2 linked regions of the Homo sapiens genome follow. The protein of the gene in region 1 interacts with the protein of each later gene in a pairwise test. Each region holds a gene or a part of one and is shown on either strand. Other genes may lie near its edges.

What was found.
Region 2: the proteins of CERT1 (region 1) and POM121 interact in a two-hybrid assay, tested with the Homo sapiens proteins (one large-scale study listed by BioGRID and IntAct).

What each region holds. Positions count from the first base shown.
Region 1 is NC_000005.10:75,501,630-75,505,129, reverse strand, and holds part of CERT1 (ceramide transfer protein), read left to right. Parts: intron 1-3,500. UniProt on the Homo sapiens protein: Shelters ceramides and diacylglycerol lipids inside its START domain and mediates the intracellular trafficking of ceramides and diacylglycerol lipids in a non-vesicular manner.
Region 2 is NC_000007.14:72,931,595-72,935,094, reverse strand, and holds part of POM121 (nuclear envelope pore membrane protein POM 121), read right to left. Parts: intron 1-3,500. UniProt on the Homo sapiens protein: Essential component of the nuclear pore complex (NPC). The repeat-containing domain may be involved in anchoring components of the pore complex to the pore membrane. When overexpressed in cells induces the formation of cytoplasmic annulate lamellae (AL).

The DNA of each region.
Region 1 (3,500 bases):
TTTTTAGTAGAAATGGGGTTTCACTGTGTTGGCCAGGCTGGTCTCAAACTCCTGACCTCAAGTGATCCACCCACCTCAGCCTCCCAAAGTGCTGGGATTACAGGCATGAGCCACCGCGCCTGGCCTACTTAGTTTACATTTAACTTAGTATATAGAAACAACTGTTCCTTTTTGCACTCGTAGTCATTAGACATGAATAATGTTTAAGATATGTAAGAACTATAACAAGTAAACTGGCATAAACAGGTTTGGGAACAACCAACTGACTTGTTAAGCATGTAACCCAACTAGTGAGAACAGAAGTACCTGATAATACAAAAAATAGCATACTGGTTAAGAATGGTCAGCATGCCATGGGCCAAAAAAAAAAAAAAAAAAGTGTTGGCTAAGGCCAGACAGTTAAATAGAGGTCAGTTAAGGGAGCTGTTGTAGTTAAAATCTGAAAATGGGTACGTTAAAACAAAAATACAGAGTTTACTAACTCACTCAAAGAGAAGTCACATTTTGTGATAGAATTTATTTGGCTTATAAAAGTGAAAGATATATATATAATACTTCAGATTTCCGTTAATATCTAATCCTTACTTAGCGTATGTTTGTTATGCATTTAGGGAAAATCTTACAGTATTTTTACATTATTTTTTATACATTATTTCCCCCCTTGTATATTCAAAGTTTGAAAACAAAAGTTTAGAATTGAATATCAAGTTAGAGAAACACAGAAGAAATATTTGGAAGTGTTGATAATGAAACTACGCTCTCTATTCTTAGAGACAATTTTTAGGAAATAGCTTTAACATAAAGGCTCAGTATTTATTTTGACTGGTATGTGGTACATTGTAATGTGTTTAGAAATTGTATCTAGTTTAATATTTTGGGTGTTTTTCTTCCGAGATAGATCATTATTCATATCAATGGACAGAATAGTGGATTGAAATGTACCTTGCGATCTTGAAGTGTTTTTCCTTGATCCTCCACTCCCCTTCTTTTGCGTATTATTATTGGATGTTTATTAGTTGCAATGCTTAACTCTTTGAAAATAGTATAATGATTGATGTAAAAATGGGGAGGAATTAAATTTTATCTTTATTATTCTCTAAGTAGTAGTATTCCTAGAGTACCATGCTAGTTTCTGTGGATTTAAATATAGTTATTCTGTCTTGAATTATGGACTATAATAATGTTGCCTGGCTTATTTGGAGAAAAGAAAATTTTAAATTAAACATTTAATTTAAATGTTTAATTTAAATTAAACAAAAAATTTAAATGTTTAATTTAAATTAAACAAAAAATTTAAATTTTAACATTTATATCCATCTTCTCAGGAAGAAAACAGTGTTACTTTATTGTAATTGATTTTTGTTATAGCTATATGTACATGCATAACTTTCATTGTGGTACATAGTAAAAGACATGCGTAGGAACAAGAAACAATTTGAATTCTTTGAAGGAGAGATAAAAGTAGAAGTAAAAAGATGAATTAGGCAACAAAATCTGTGTGGTAGTCTTAGATACAATGAAATGGATGATAGGAAAAAACACAAGCATTTATATTATTGAACTTGAACTTTCCTTGCCCTTTGGGTTCACAGACTCCATGTTACATATTTAAAGGAAATTAAAAATATAACTGAATTCAGTGAACTCAGGATGAGTTTACAAATTAGAGTATGTACTTTAGTTAAATAAATAAATGTAATAGTAATATTCCTCATTAAATTTTAATAGGCATCTCTTGGTATTTTTTTTCCTTAAATATGGGCTATGCCTATTGTCACTTCATGTCAGAATACAAAGAATGTAAATGTTTAATTTCTTTATATGGCACTCTTATGAAATTGATAATATTCACGTACAAAGAAATCTGGGCTTGAAGAGTTGATGTGACTTTACTGTAACCATTCATTACTATATTATTTGTTGGTGGACCTAGCATCTGAACCCACATTTCTTGATAGAGCCTAATCCATTTTAAGTTCATTCTTAGTTTAATGATTAAATCACTCTTAATTTATAAAAACAATATTCTTTATCTGTGTGATAATAAAGTGGGTGAAATAATTTCAAGGAAGAAAGTATGTCTTGAGAGAATTTATTCCTTAATGTGAAAGGATTGACAGTAAGTAGGTGAGAGGAAAAATAGTATTCCCTTACTTTGTGTAAAAAGAGCTATTTGTATGTAGAATAAGTGTTTGTAGAAAGACAGTTGAATTCTTCAGTTATTATAGCTTGATACTTAGAAGACCCAGCCCCTGCTACAAAATTTGCCGCATAGTAGATATTCTGAATATGTTAGTTGTAATTGTTTCAATTAAAAGCAAATGTTTATGGAATATTTACACTGTTTACTTTTTATATTCTATTTTTAAAATAAAGTGCACATGATAAAAAATATAATTTGTGGCATTAAAAAGTTTAAGAAGTACATGCTGCTTTTTAGTCTTGCACTTGAGGGACAACCAAACTTAAATTTCTGGTCATCCTTTCAGAAAATATGTAGGACTATACAAGGATTTGTTTATATCTTTCATAAATATTTACACAAATGGTATCATATTAAGCCTATTGTTCTGCACCTTGTTTTAATACAACTTACACATTAACTGTTATATTCTGTTGAATCGTGTGGATATATTATATTTATTTGCCTGGACCCTGTTTTTGCACATTTAAATCATGCCTAATTTTTATTACAATCATTATTGAAACAAATATGTACTTTAAAATTTGTTTTTAGTTATTGTCAAATACTCCTTCAAGAGTACCACTCCTCACTCCTACCAGTAGTGAATGAGTGCCTCTGTTTCTCCTTACCCGCAAGTATTGAGGAAGTTGGGTTTGGCAAATGTTAAAGTATTTGTCAAACTGCTACATTAAAATGGTATCTTATTATTTTAAATTGCACTTTTTATCCATGAGGTTGAGTAACTTAATAATTTATAGCCCATTTTTATTTCTTTTTCCTTTTCCAATTGCTTATGCACTTTTTTTTTGGTTTTTCTTTCCTTTTTGGCTTGTAGAAACTCTTCATATGGTAATTAACCATTTGGCACATTTGTTGCAAATATTTTCCCCCACATTGTCACTTGTCTGTTTCTTCTTTGCTTGTTTTATAGTCTATATTAGGCCCTAGAGAAATCTTAGATTTTTACATACTCTTATTGACATCTTTTATTACGGCTTCTGTATTTACTTGTTTAGATAGGTGTTTCTCTCTCAAAGACTATCTCTCTATATGAATGTAGATATATTTTCATCTAAAATTTACACTTGAATTTTGATTCCTGTGGAAGTTATTTTAGTTTAAGGAGTGATATTGATGTTTTTAGTTTTTTTTCCACATGACTAATTATGTATCCTGGTAGCATTAATTAAATAACTAACCTTTTTCCAAGTGGTTTCAAACACCACTTTCATCATATATTACGGTCCCATATTTATTTAAGGTTGTTTCTGGACTCTCTTCTGGGCATTTGGCTTGTCCTTCTTATCCTCTGTTT
Region 2 (3,500 bases), on another chromosome or scaffold:
CAGTAGATGAAAGGCAATCCCAATCAGTATCTCAGAACTTTTTTTTTTTTTTGTGGAAATTGACAAGTTGATCTAAAAATTATATGAAAATGCAAAAGGCCAAGATACAAGACAGTCCTGAAGAGAAATGAGAAAGTGGGATGACTGACTCTATCAAGACTTAAAGTATAAGGCTAGGGGTAAAACAAAGACTGGCACAAGGGTAGGTAGAAAAATAGACCAATGGAACAAAACAGAGTCTAGAAATGGACCCACATATATACAGACACTTAAATTAGACAAAGACGGTGCTGCAGAGAAATAAGGATGGTCCTTTCAATAAATGTTGCTAAGAGAAATGGGTATTTCTACAGTAAAAAACAACAACAACAACAACAAAAACCACCAACACCACCAAACACAAAAAAAACTAATTTTGATTCCAACCTCACACCATATACAAAAATTAATTTCAGGTGGTTTATGGATTTACATATAAAAGTAATAATAAAATAATAAAGCTTCTAGAAGGTAGCACAGAAGAAAATTATCATGACCTTAGGTTAGGTAGGCAAAGATTTCCTGAATACTACACAAAGTATGCTAACCACAAGGAAGTAGAATGGCAAGAGCAGGACACTTTTTTGTTGCAACACATACATGACAGACAGCTTGTATCTAGAACATATAAAGAGCGTATTCAAATCTCTAAGAAAAAGACAACAACTTGGGGCCAGGTGTGGTGGCTCACGCCTGTAATCCCAGCACTTCGGGAGGCCAAGGCGGACGGATCACCTGAGGTCACGAGTTCGAGACCATCCTAGCCAACATGGTGAAAACCCATCTCTACTAAAAATACAAAAATTAGCCGGGCATGGTGGTGGGTGCCTGTAATCCCAGCTACTTGGGAGGCTGAGACTGGGGAATTGCTTGAACCCAGGAGGTGGAGGTTGCAGTGAGCCAAGGTCACAGCACTGCACTCCAGCCCGGGCGACAGTGCGAGACTCTGTCTCAAAAGAAAGAAAAAAAAAAAGACTGTACAGTAAAAAGTAAATTTCCTTTTTATCTCAGTAATGATTGCCAGTTTTTAATATATCCTGTAAGAATTATTTTATGCATATTAAAAGATTTTTAAAAGCCCGAATAATAGAGGATACTATACAGTTCTGAGCCTTGTTTTTATGTAATTGCTTTTTGAGATCATTCTCATGAGTACTTCTTCAGTTGCCTTATTCTTTTTCATAGTTACATAGTATATTCCAACTTACACCAATACTGTAAGTTATTCAGTCAGCTCCCTGAAAAGATAACATGTACATTGTTTCCAAGCTGCTATTATTAAAACAATGTTACATTAAATCCTTGTATCCATTTCCCAGTATGTGTGTAGGATAACTTCCTAAAGGTAAAGCTGCTTGATCAAAGGGTGCATGTATCTCTTATGTGGACAATTCCTGTCACAAAGCCCTCTAGAGAGCTGTACCAACTGACACTCCCACCAGCAACGCGTGAGGAGCCTGTTTCTTCTAACACTGCACTTCTATGGTTTCTATTTTACGTTCAAAACTTTGCTTCATTTGGAATAGGTTTCTCTACTATAGGAAAAACTCTTGAACATGAGATTTGGCTGGTAGCCCTTCAGAAAAATGGGTAAAGGATATGAACTAAGACTCATGGAAACAGAACTGAAAATAATCATTCAACATATGAACAGATGATCAAACTACTCATAAGAGACAAAAATTAGATACCTTTTTTTCTTTGAGACAGAATCTCACTCTGTCGTCCAGGCTGGAGGGCAGTGGCGTGAGCTCGGCTCACTTGACCTCTGCCTTTCAGGGTCAAGCAGTTCTCCTGCCTCAGCCTCCCAAGTAACTGGGATTACAGGCACACACGACCACGCCTGGCTAAATTTTTTGTATTTTTAGTAGCAACCGGTTTTTGCCACGTTGGCCAGGCTGGTCTCAAACTCCGGATTTCAGGTGATCCACCTGCCTCAGCCTCCCAAAGTGCTGGGATTACAGGTGTAAGCCACCAAGCTCGGCTGGCTTTTTTTTTTTTTTTGAGACAGAGTCTCACTCTGTCGCCCAGGCTGGAGTGGAGTGGCGCTATCTCTGCTCACTGCAACCCCTGCCTCCCAGGTTCCTGATATTCTCCTTCCTCAGCCTCCTGAGTAGCTGGGATTACAGGCATGTGCCACCATGCCCAGCTAATTTTTATGTTTTTAGTAGAGACAGGATTTCACCATGTTGGCTAGGATGATCTCGAACTCCTGACCTCCAGTGATCTGCCTTCCTCGGCCTCTCAAAGTGCTGGGATTACAGGCATGAGCTGCCACGCCTGTCTTAGATACTATTTTTAACCTGTGAAATTGGTAAAAGCCCAGAGCTACAATAACCAAATCTGCTGGTGAGGCCATGGAGAAATGGTCCCTCTCATACAACGCTGAGGGGAATGCTGAGTGGTGCATGCTCTGTAGGGGGATTTAACAATATCCAGCAAAATTACATGCGCATTTAACCTTTGACCTGGGAATCTGACTTCTAGGAACTTTCCAGAGGCAAAATTGCCAAGGATGAAATGACATATGAACAAATGTATTCTTTGCAGCATTATTTGTGATAGCAGAAGACTGAAACAACCCAACATTTGTCAACAGAGGACTAAAGTACCTATGCAGTTTTAAGACCAAAGATGAGTTTCTGTGTACTGCTATGGAATGACCTCAACTATCTATTATGTGAAAAAGCAAGGTTCAAATCTGTATATACTGTCTACTACCTTAAATGTTAGAAGGTGGCGGTTTTCAGATACACTGATATGCATACCGTTTAAAAAACAATAAAGGATAATCAAAAAATAAAAATGGAGAGGAAGGAAAAATGTAGAGTGGAAAGGGATGGAAACTGAATTTTTGAGTGTATCTTGTTTTAGTGTATTTTTTTTGAAACAACTTATTGTTTCAAAGATTTTACATAATTTAAAACAGAACTATTTCAAAAAGGAAAACACAGAAATCCCTGTAACTTTCAAACATACTGAACAAACGAACCTCACTGTATATAAAGTTGGTGTACCCAAAGGACAATTAACATTACTTTAAAACACGATATATTGATTACATGTCCGTAGCATTCACACAGGGATATAAAGACAAATGAATCACAATTCTTAAACTGACTTCAGCCGTCTTAATAATGACAGTGTTAACAATGACACTGATACCGCTATTTTGAAATTGCATGGGCCAGGCGTGGTGGCTCATGCCTGTAATCCCAGCACTTTGGGAGGCCAAGGTGGGTGGATCACCTGAGGTCACGAGTTCGATGCCAGCCTGGCCAACATGGTGAAATCTCGTCTCTACTAAAAATACAAAAATTAGCTGGGCATGGTGGCGGGCACCTATAGTCTCAACTACTTGGGAGGCTGAGGCAGGAGAATCGCTTGAACTCAGGAAGCGGAGATTGCAGTGAGTCAAGGTCGCACCACTGTGCTCCAGCCTGGGCGACAAGAGTAAGACT